Regions from separate parts of the Homo sapiens genome. Here region 1 is linked to region 2. The links come from fine-mapping of genetic effects on plasma protein levels. Region 2 holds a variant in brackets. A gene starts in the other region. All regions are shown on their forward strands. Region 1 holds the start of AGRN (agrin). Region 2 has its middle 26 kb from the start of PRSS12.

What was found. A credible set is the group of variants that fine-mapping cannot tell apart. PIP is the chance, under the fine-mapping model, that this variant and not a neighbour inherited with it causes the effect. Protein levels are from antibody-based Olink assays in UK Biobank. Linkage for the fine-mapping came from a reference panel and not from the study's own genotypes, which makes the PIPs less certain.
Region 1: AGRN starts here. The variant in region 2 is the best candidate, but not a certain one, in a credible set for the plasma level of the AGRN protein (UK Biobank, PIP 0.86).

Annotation. Positions count from the first base shown.
Region 1 is chr1:1,016,129-1,021,499 of GRCh38, forward strand. It overlaps AGRN (agrin), which reads left to right and starts at 3,992. Exons shown (of 36, transcript NM_198576.4): 1 at 3,992-4,245. The coding sequence starts at 4,045. RefSeq lists a silencer at 3,306-3,755 and an enhancer at 5,264-5,371.
Region 2 is chr4:118,376,548-118,381,924 of GRCh38, forward strand. No RefSeq gene overlaps it. Among named protein-coding and RNA genes, the nearest start is that of PRSS12, 26 kb to the left of the region's middle. The variant T/C (reference allele first, on the strand shown) is at 2,276.

The DNA of each region.
Region 1 (5,371 bases), not on the chromosome of region 2:
GTTCACTGCAACCTCCACCTCCCGGGTTCAAGCAATTCTCCTGCCTCAGCCTCCCAAGTAGTTGGGATTAATGGTGCCCGCCACCTCACCCAGCTAACTTTTTTTTGTGTTTTTAGTAGAGACAGCGTTTCACTGTATTGGCCAGGCTAGTCTCGAATTCCTGACCTCATGATCCGCCCGCTTCAGCCTTCCAAAGTGCTAGGGTTACAAGTGTGAGCCCCCGCACCCGGCCTAATTTTTGTATTTTTAGTAGAGATGGGGTTTCATCATGTTGGCCAGGCTGGTCTTGAACTCCTGGCCTCAAGTGGTCCGCCTGCCTCGGGCTCCCAAAATGCTGGGATTACAGGTGTGAACCACTGGGCCTGACTGACCCAGTCCTTTTTTTAAAAAAATTACTTACTTTTCCCAGGGTCATACTCTCAGCTAGGCTGGAGTGCAGTGGCACAATCACCGCTCACCGCAGCCTCCACCTCCCACACTCAAGTGATCCTCCCGCCTCAGCCTCCCGAGGAGCTGGGATTACAGGTGCGTGTCACCACACCTGGCTAATTTTGTATTTGTTTTGTTTTGTGTTTCTTTGAGATGGAGTTTCGCTCTGTCGCCCAGGCTGGAGTGCAGTGGTGTGATCTCGGCTCACTGCAAGCTCCACCTCCTGAGTTCAAGCGATTCTCCTGCCTCAGCCTCCTGACTGGCTGGGATTACAGGTGCGTGTCACCCGGCTAATTTTTTAGTAGAGGCAGTTTCACCATGTTGGTCAGGCTGGTCCCGAACTCCTGACCTTGTGATCCACTCCCCCCTTGGCTGCCCAAAGTGCTGGGATCACAAGCGTGAGTTACCGTGCCCTGTCTGTATTTATAGTAGAGACAGAGTTTCACCATGTTGGCCAGGCTGGTCTCGAACTACTGACCTCAAGTGATCCGCCCACCTCGGCCTCCCAAAGTGCTGGGATTACAGGCCTGAGCCACCACGCCCGGCCCGTCGACTAATTTTTTTTTTTTGAAACAGTCTCGCTCTGTCACCCAGGCTGGAGTGCAGTTGCACTGTGTCCAGAATTGGTGGGTTCTTGGTCTCACTGACTTCAAGAATGAAGCCACGGACCCTCGCGGTGAGTGTTACAGCTCTTAAGTCGGCGCGTCTTCAGTTCGTTCCTTCTGATGTTCGGATATGTTCGGAGTTTCTTCCTTCTGGTGGGTTCGTGGTCTCGCTGGCTCAGGAGTGAAGCTGCAGACCTTGGCGGCGAGTGTTACAGCTCTTAAGGCAGCGCGTCTGGATTTTTTGTTCCTCCCGGTGGGCTCGTGGTCTCGCTGGTTTCAGGAGTGAAGCTGCAGACCTTGGCGGTGAGTGTTACAGCTCATAAAAGCAGTGTGAACCCAAAAAGTGAGCAGTAGCAAGATTTATTGCAAAGAGCGAAAGAACAAAGCCTCCACTGTGTGGAAGGGGACCTGACCGGGTTGCCACTGCTAGCACCGGCAGCCTGCTTTTATTCTCTTATCTGGCCCCACCCACATCCTGCTGATGGGTAGAGCCTAGTGGTCTGTTTTGACAGGGCGCTGATTGGTGCATTTACAATCCCTGAGCTAGACACAAAGGTTCTCCACGTCCCCACCAGATTAGTTAGATACAGAGTATCCACACAAAGGTTCTCCAAGGCCCCACCAGAGTAGCTAGATACAGAGTCCACTGGCACATTCACAAACCCTGAGCTAGACACAGGGCGCTGATTGGTGTATTTACAAACCTTGAGCTAGATACAGAGTGCCGATTGGTGTATTTACAATCCCTGAGCTAGACATAAATGTTCTCCAAGGTCTCACCAGAGTAGCTAGATACAGAGTGTCCACTGGCGCATTCACAAACCCTGAGCTAGACACAGGGTGCTGATTGGTGTATTTACAAACCTTGAGCTAGATACAGAGTGCCGATTGGTGTATTTACAATCCCTGAGCTAGACATAAAGGTTCTCCAAGGCCCCACCAGAGTAGCTAGATACAGAGTGTCTGTCTATTGGTGCATTCACAGACTCTGAGCTAGACACAGGGTGCTGATTGGTGTATTTACAATCCCTGAGCTAGACATAAAGGTTCTCCACGTCTCCACCACTCAGGAGCCCAGCTGGCTTCACCCAGTGGATCCCGCACTGGGGCTGCAAGTGGAGCTGCCTGCCAGTCCTGCGCTGTGCACCCGCACTCCTCAGCCCTTGGGTGGTCATGGGACTAGGCACGGTGGAGCAGGGGGCAGCGCTCATCGGGGAGGCTTGGGCCGCACAGGAGCCCACGGAGGGGGTGGGAGGCTCAGGCATGGTGGGCTGCAGGTCCCCAGCTCTGCCCCGCCGGAAGGCAGCTAAGGCCTGGCGAGTAATCGAGTGCAGCGCCAGTGGGCTGGCACTGCTGGGGGACCCACTACACCCTCCGCAGCCGCTGGCCCGGGTGCTAAGCCCCTCATTGCTCCGGGCCGGCAGGGCCGGCCGGCTGCTCCAAGTGCGGGGCCCACCAAGCCCACGCCCACTCGGAACTCCAGCTGGCCCGCAAGAGCCGCGCGCAGCCCCGGTTCCCGCTCATGCCTCTCCCTCCACACCTCCCTGCAAGCTGAGGGAGCCGGCTCCCGCCTTGGCCAGCCCAGAAAGGGGCTCCCACAGTGCAGCGGTGGGCTGAAGGGCTCCTCAAGTGCCACCAAAGTGGGAGCCCAGGCAGAGGAGGCGTGAAGACCGAGAGAGGGCTGTGAGGACTGCCAGCACGCTGTCACCTCTCAGCACCATCTCAGCTCACTGCAACCTCCGCCTCCTGGGTTCAAGCGATTCTCCTGCCTCAGCCTCCCAAGTAGCTAGGACTACAGGCGCCTGCCACCACACCGGCCAATTTTTGTATTTTTAGTAGAGACGGGGTTTCACCATGTTGGCCAGGCTGGTCTCGAACTCCTGACCTCCCGTGATCCACCTGCCTCAGCCTCCCAAAGTGCTGGGATTACAGGCGTGAGCCACTGCGCCCGGCCCATCCAGCTAATTTTTAATTTTTTTGAGAGATGGGGTCTTGCTATTTTGCCCAGGCTAGTCTCGAACACCCGGTGTCAAGAGATCTTGCTGCCTCCGCCTCCCAGAGTGCTGGGATGACAGGCGTGAGTCACCACGCCCAGCCTAGACACAGTTCTGAAGGGACAAAGGGGGCCTCCGCTCCCTCCTTTCAATCTTCAGCTAGGCCAGGCTCCCACTTGGGTCCTCCAGCCCTCAGTTTCCCCCTGCACCCAGCCAGGCCAAGCTGCAGAGGCGCCCGGCCCAGAGCTGGGAAGGGGCGTGGCGGGACCCGCGCTTGCAGCCGCGGGACGGAAGGGGGCGCGAACCTCCCCGCGGCGGGGCCTGGGGGGGCGGGGCCGGGAGGGGCGGGGCCGCGCCCCGTGCTGGCCAATCAGCGCCCGCCCCGGCACCGGGACCCGCCTCCGCGCCGCAGCTCCCGGGGGGTCCGGCCCGGCCGAGCCTCGGTGTCCGGCCCCGCGGGGGAGGGGCGCGGCCTGCGGAGCGGGATCGGGGCCGGGTCTGGGGCCCCTCCCGGCGGCCTTCGAGCCCTGCCGCCCGGCTCCGCGCCGCCCGGAGCCCCTCGGCAGTCCCGTCACGTCTCCTCCAGATTAGGCATTAACTCGGGTGCAGCCGCACTTCCGGGGGGCCGCGGCGGGGGAGGGGCGCCTGCGGGATCCAGACCCGCCCCCCACTCTCCTCTCCCCGCCCCCTCCCGGGCCGCCCCTTTCCCGCCCCACGGCCGCGCCGGGCGCTGCGTCCCGGGGCTTTGTTCGCGGCGGCGCGGGTCGCCGGCCTCCGGGCGGGCCGGGGGAGGGAGGAGGGAGGGGGCGGGAGGGGGAAGGAAGGAGGAGGGGGAGGAGGAGGGCGCGGGGAGGGGGTAGGGGGGCGGGGAGGAGAGAGGGGGAGGGGCGCCGCCCTGGCCCCGCCCCCCCCCGCCCGCCCGCCCGCGCTCCGCCGCCTCCGGAGCTGCGTCCCGTCCTGTCCAGTCCCGTCCCCGGCGCGGCCCGCGCGCTCCTCCGCCGCCTCTCGCCTGCGCCATGGCCGGCCGGTCCCACCCGGGCCCGCTGCGGCCGCTGCTGCCGCTCCTTGTGGTGGCCGCGTGCGTCCTGCCCGGAGCCGGCGGGACATGCCCGGAGCGCGCGCTGGAGCGGCGCGAGGAGGAGGCGAACGTGGTGCTCACCGGGACGGTGGAGGAGATCCTCAACGTGGACCCGGTGCAGCACACGTACTCCTGCAAGGTGCGCCCACCCGGACCCCGGCCTCCCCTCGCGACGCCTGCCGCCCCGCCGGGACCCCCGCCCCAGGCCGTGGGAACCAGCCCCGGTCGCTCCGCAGCCCCCGCTCCGGCTCCCTTGGCGACCGCCAAGCCCCGGGAGGGGGGGTCGCCGGGTCCCGGGAAACTCGCGGGCGCCGGGGAAAGTTGCTGCGCCGCCGCCGTCCTCCGCCCGCCGCCGCCTCCCTCCTCGCGGAGACAAGTGCACCTCGCCCACGGACTGCGGCTGCCGCGCGCCCTCCCTACCGGCCGAGAAGGAGAGGGGCCTGGGGAGGGGGGGCCTTTGCCCGGGCGGGGAGCGGGGGCTGGGCCTGGGATCCGCTTGTTCCCCTCCCCAGAGGCCTTTCCCGGGGCGAGAGGGGTTGGTCAGGAGAGAAAAAGGGGCGCACAGCCTGAGCTCCCAACCCCGGGAGCCAGGTGGGGGGTGCCGCAGTGGTGCGGGGGGGGGGCGTGCAGGAGCAGAGAGGTGGGCGGGGCCGTCACCGGGCCTCGTGTGCTTGGGGGCAGGGCCGGTGCCCCATCGCGCTCCTGCGGGAACCGGGGCTCCCCACCCCGGGGAGGGGAAGTTTCCCTGGTTTCTCCTTCAGGTGCTTCTGGGAGCCCCCGGGGTAGGTACGCTGGGACCCCCACCATCTTCTCCTAGTAGGGGCTCGGGGGACCCAGAGCCGGCGCCCGTGTACCCCCAAAACCATCTCCTGGGACCAGAAATCCACTCATTTCCCTCCACGGAGGTGGAGAAGGTGGCAGCTTCTTTCAGACTGGCCGGTGCGGGCTACAGCTGGGCTCCCCCGCCGGCCCAGTCTCCTCCACAGCGGCCAGGGCACTTTGCCAGGCCCCTGCAGGATTTTCCCGACTTCCTCCCCGCTGCTCCTGGGTGTGGCTGGGGTGGGGGAAGGCGATGAAAGCCACCAGGCCCTCCCCCTGCCTGGGTCATCTGCCTCCTGGAGCCTACTGTTGGGGGGCGTGGAAGAGGCTCTGCCTGCGCAACTGGAGGGGGTCCCTGCGGATGCCGCAGTCCTGAGGCTCCCAGCAGGGGCTGCGCAGTGGACAGGCCAACCATTGTCTCTCCCCCCATCCGGCAGCCCCAGCCC
Region 2 (5,377 bases):
CCAGGGATACAGCAGGCATGCCTTGTTGGGCTAAAGAATAAGGAAAGAGCAAAGAATAGTGGGGACATATCAAAAGGACACAGAAACCAGTTGGAAGGGGCTTCACTGGCCAAGGGTCAGACAATTCGAGCAGCAAAATAAAGGAGGTGAAATCTGACTTCAGTTTCCCTGAGTAGCTGGTGTATGACAGGGTAGGACAGATAACCCTAAAAGGACAAACCACAGCTGTCCTCAAGCAGCTCTGGCAGGCTTCAGCCTCTTAAGCACAGAGGCCTCATGCTGCTCTCCAACAGCTAGAATAGTGGAGATGTGCTTGAGGCAGAAGAGGAAACTAGAAGAGATGGCACCAGGAAGTGAGGTCCAAAACAAACCAACAAATAAATAATGATGGTAATGGATGAAGACTCTTTGAGTAAAGTAGAAAGCCATGAATCTATAATGATGTTAACTAAGTAATTAGGTTCACTGGCACAAAGCATAATCTCAACAGTGTTGTCGAATGTCACAGTCCATCTTCAGGCAAGAATAATAAAAAAAATGCTAAAACTGATGGGTGAATGTATTAGTCTGTTCTCATGCTGCTAATAAAGACATACCCAAGACTGGGTAATTTATAAAGGAAAGAGGTTTAATTGACACACAGTTCCACATGGCTGGGGAGGCCTGACAATCATGGTGGAAAGCAAAGGAGGAGCAAAGGCATGTCTTACATGGTGGCAGGTAAAAGACTATGCACAGGAGAACTCCCCTTTATAAAACTATCAGATCTCATGAGACTTATTCACTATCATGAGAACAGCACAGGAAAAACTGCCCCCATGGCTTAATTACCTCCCACCAGGTCCCTCCTGCAACACATGGAGATTATAGGAGCTACAATTCAAGATGAGATTTGGGTGGGGACATAGCCAAATCATATCAGTGAAGTATCATGAGGAATAGGATATTCACATAGCCTCAAAGTGTTTTGTTAATTACTTATTAATTAATAATGACAACATATTTAACCAATTTTCAAGTAGAGAAAACTGGAAGACACCATCTTAACCAAGTTTTCAAAGTTAACATCATCAGATAAAGGACAAATTGATACCTTGTGGGTCTTGATATGATGCACTGAGGAGACCACATCATTTATGTGGTATTTCTGTCAAAAATGCACAAATCATGAGAAATCAGACAAAACCAATTTGGGGGACTTTCTACAAAGTAACTCTTCAAAAGTAACAAGAGCATGAAAGAGAAAGACAGGAAATGTTTCAGACTGAAGGGATCTAAAAAAGCATGTCAACTAAATGTGTCATGTGATCCTGGATTAGATCTAGGACCTTTGATGGACATCACTGGACGATTGGTAAAATTTGAAAGGGGCCTATGGATTAGATGGTAATTTACAATGCTAATTTCCTTGTCCTAGTGTGATTTTGTAGTAGATTGTCCTTGTATACACGAAACAAACACTGAAATATTAAGAGATAACATGGTATAATATCTGCAACTTATTCTCAAATGGCTCAGAAATATTATCAGAGGATCTGGGTGATAAAAACAAAGGGGAAACTTTTGTTTGAGATGTCAAAACACATATCTATATAATTTATGATTTCAAAAGGTAACCACAATGGAAGCTGATATTTAGGACTGAATGAAAATGAATTTACTTATGCAAATTTGTAGAATACAGTTATGATGGTAGTCGAAAGGAATTATAGCACTTGAAATACTTATATTAGAAAAAAATATATATGTCATTGGTGACAACATGGATGAACCTGGAGGACATAAGTTAGGTGAAATAATTCAGGTTCAGAAAGATAAATGCCATATGATTCCATCTGTGAAATATGAAAAAGTGAAACCTCATCAGAACAAGGTGTAAAATGGTGATTACCAGACTTGGGAATAAGGGAACTAGGGAGATGTTGATCAAAGGACACAAAATTTCAGTTAGACAGGAGGAATAAATTCAAGAGACCTATAAAAAATAGCACATCATGGTGACTGCAGTTAATAACAATATATTGTGTATTTGAAATGTGTTGCCGGGAGCGGTGGCTCACACCTGTAATCCCAGTCCTTTGGAAGGCCAAGGTGGGCAGATCATTTGAGGTCAGGAGTTCGAGACCAGCCTGGCCAACATGGTGAAACCCCTCTCTACTAAAAATACAAAAATTAGCCAGGCATGGTGGTGCATGCCTGTAATCCCAGCTACTTGGGAGGCTGAGGCAGGAGAATTGCTTGAACCCAGGAGGTGGAGTTTGCAGTGAGCTGAGAT[T/C]GCACCACTGCACTCCAGCTTGGGCAACAGAGCAAGATTCCGTCTCAAAAATAAATAAATAAATAAATAAATAAGAAATTTGCTAAGAGAGTAAATTTTGTGTTCTCACCACAAGAAAATAAGTATGTGAGGTAATTCATATGCTAAATAGCTTGAATTTTCCATTTCACAATGTATGCATATACCAAAACATCATGTTGTATACCATAACCACACAATTTTTATTTGTCAATTAAAATAAATAAATGAACTTTTTAAAGGAAAATAAGAATATAAATAGGACAAAATGATATTATGTACTTCCCAGTAATGTCATTTGAGAAAGACATTATATCATCATTGTAATATTTTTGGCAAAAATATTTCAACTGATTCTAATCATGAGGAAACAATCAGACAAACTGAAACTGTGGGACATTCTATCAAACACCTGGCCCAAATGTTTCAAAAATGTCAGTCTCATGGAAGTCAAAGAAAAGTAACAAGAACAAAAACAGAACACTCCTAGAATAAAAGCTAGAAAAACTCATGATCTAAATGCAATGCCTGTCTGGTCCTTGTTTTGCCCTGGATTTTTTTTTAAAAAGCTATAAATGTCAATGCTATTATTTAGACAATTGGGGACATTTGAACATAACATAATAGTATTACATAGTATTAACTGTATAGCTTGTGACAATATTATATTTATGTAGAATAGTATTTTTGTTCTCGAGAGGTGATGTGTCATGACATCAGCAATGATAAACAGATAATAAATCTGACAAGTGTTAATACTTGGAAAATCTAGGGGATGAGTACCCTGATAGTTGGAAGTTCATTGTATTGTGAGGTTATTTTCAATGTTTCTTGAGGTTTTGCGTTTAAGAAGGATTTGTTAAGCACTATGTGCTGGAAATACAAATAAACAAGACCCTTCCCCAAGGAAATCCCATTTTTATGGAAGATGTGACATGATGAAATTGCTGTAGTGTATGCTGATAGGTGCATGAATACAGACATTAAAAATACACATTGAATGTAGCGTAAATTTTGTTAATAAAAACATCAGAAATAAAGCTTAGAAAATTAAAATTCTCATATGTCATAGTCCAGAGATAACTATTGTTAACACTTATATATGTTCTTTCTTTCCTCTCCCTTCCTCTCCCTTCTCTTCTCTTGCTCTCTACCTTTGGGAGATGGGAGTACTAAATGGAAGTCACATGGAATTTTCAGTTCTGTTCTCTGACTTTTTCACTCATTATGTCATTGCAGAGTATTTTCCTTGCCATTAACATTTCTTTGAAATTTCCATTTTGGCTGCACAATATTTAATTATACTCCCCCATTGTTGAAGATTTTGACCATTTCCAAATATTCTCTATTATAAATGATTATAAGAAGGAAATGATTAATCAAAAAGGGGTTTGGATAGCAAGAGAAAATGCTGGTCATAGTATGAAAGTAAGTAAATTTTTAATATATTCCTTTTGATATATTCCTTTCACTCATTTTATAACAGGAGATGCTACCCCTTATCTAATTTTCCAGTTAGTTTACATAATGATTTTGCTGGATTAGCTCATAGTGGTATTTTATATTGAAGTAACAATATAGCAATATCAGGTTATATGTTAATATTAAATATTTGTAATGTGAAATTAAAATTCTTCATTTGATTTTTCTACTTCTGAAAGAAGTTTTAATATAAAATGCAATTTAAAGGAAACATTTTATTATATTAAAAATAATTTTCCTTATTTAATATCCCTCTCCCTTTAACCTTCCCCCTTAAACTTCTCTGTGGATTTTATTATTTCTTGAAATGAAAATGTCTTTGGGCATTTATGTATCTGAAAGATAAAATGCACAACAGTTAAAGATAATTTTTCACCTACTCTGTTGAGGAAAAAAATTCAGTGTTGGTTTTTTTTGTTTTTGTTTGTGAGACAAAGTCTTGTTCTGTTGCCCAGGCTGGAGCGCAGTGGGGTGATCATGGCTCACTGCAGCCTCAGCCTCTTGGGCTCAAACAATCCTCCCACGTCAGCCTCTCAAGTAGCTGGGACCACAGGCACACACCATCACATTCAGCTATTTCTTTTGTGTGTGTGTGTGTGTGTGTGTGTACACTGGTCTCCCTATGTTGGCCAGACTGGTCTCAAACTCCTGGCCTCCCAAAGTGTTGCCACTACAGGCGTGAGCCATTGCACTGGGCTACAGTGTTGTTTGGAGAAATTTAAAGGGGAAAGGCACTCTCACATACCATTTATGGGAGTGCAATTTGATATAACTTTTTTGTAGGATAATATATTTAAAATGCTAATATGCATAACCATGTTCTTATCCGTATTTTAAGGTTTTAAAAACATATACAGACAACTTTTAATTGTCCTTGGGAGAGAGAGACTAATATATAGACTAATACAGCTAACGGAAACATTAAAATCCACTGACAGTCACTTTACACAGGCACTTAAGTCCCCTCTTTCCTCAAAGATTTTATTAAATCCTCTAATAAATAGCAAAATGATGGACAACATGATCCCCTGCTTTCCTCTATCTCCAAACTACTCTTGGCAGATGTATCAGTGATTAGTGAAATAGCTAAATAGCCACAGTGAGACAAAGTAAAGGCCAAATGCTTGTATAATCCCCAAACAGGACAGGTAGCCACTAAATAATTAAGGTTTGACTGTGCAGTAGATATAAATTATGCCTAACAAATCCCTTCTGCTCAGCCCTTTCATTATATAATACAAAATGGATTGTATAGAGTAAGTCTTTCCACAAATGGTTCGTAGCAGAGGATGTTTCAATGAGGATTCTAAATTAGTTAAATGGTCTAAGTACAGAGGAGACAAAAAGGATAATTAGAAACATGCTAAATGGTTGGCCAGTACTAAAGTCTCTAATACCTCTTCGGAGACTCCTTTATGTTATCTCTATTCCTATAAAGAAATGGTAACAAATCAAATAGATTATATCCTCAGAAGGCATTTTGCAATCGTACAAGTGTCCCTAAATGGCAACTTAACTGGAAATAAATAAAAACTTTACCTTATACGGTTATAACCCACAATTTTCTTAATGAGCAGAGCTGCCTATTGGGTTTTTATAGCT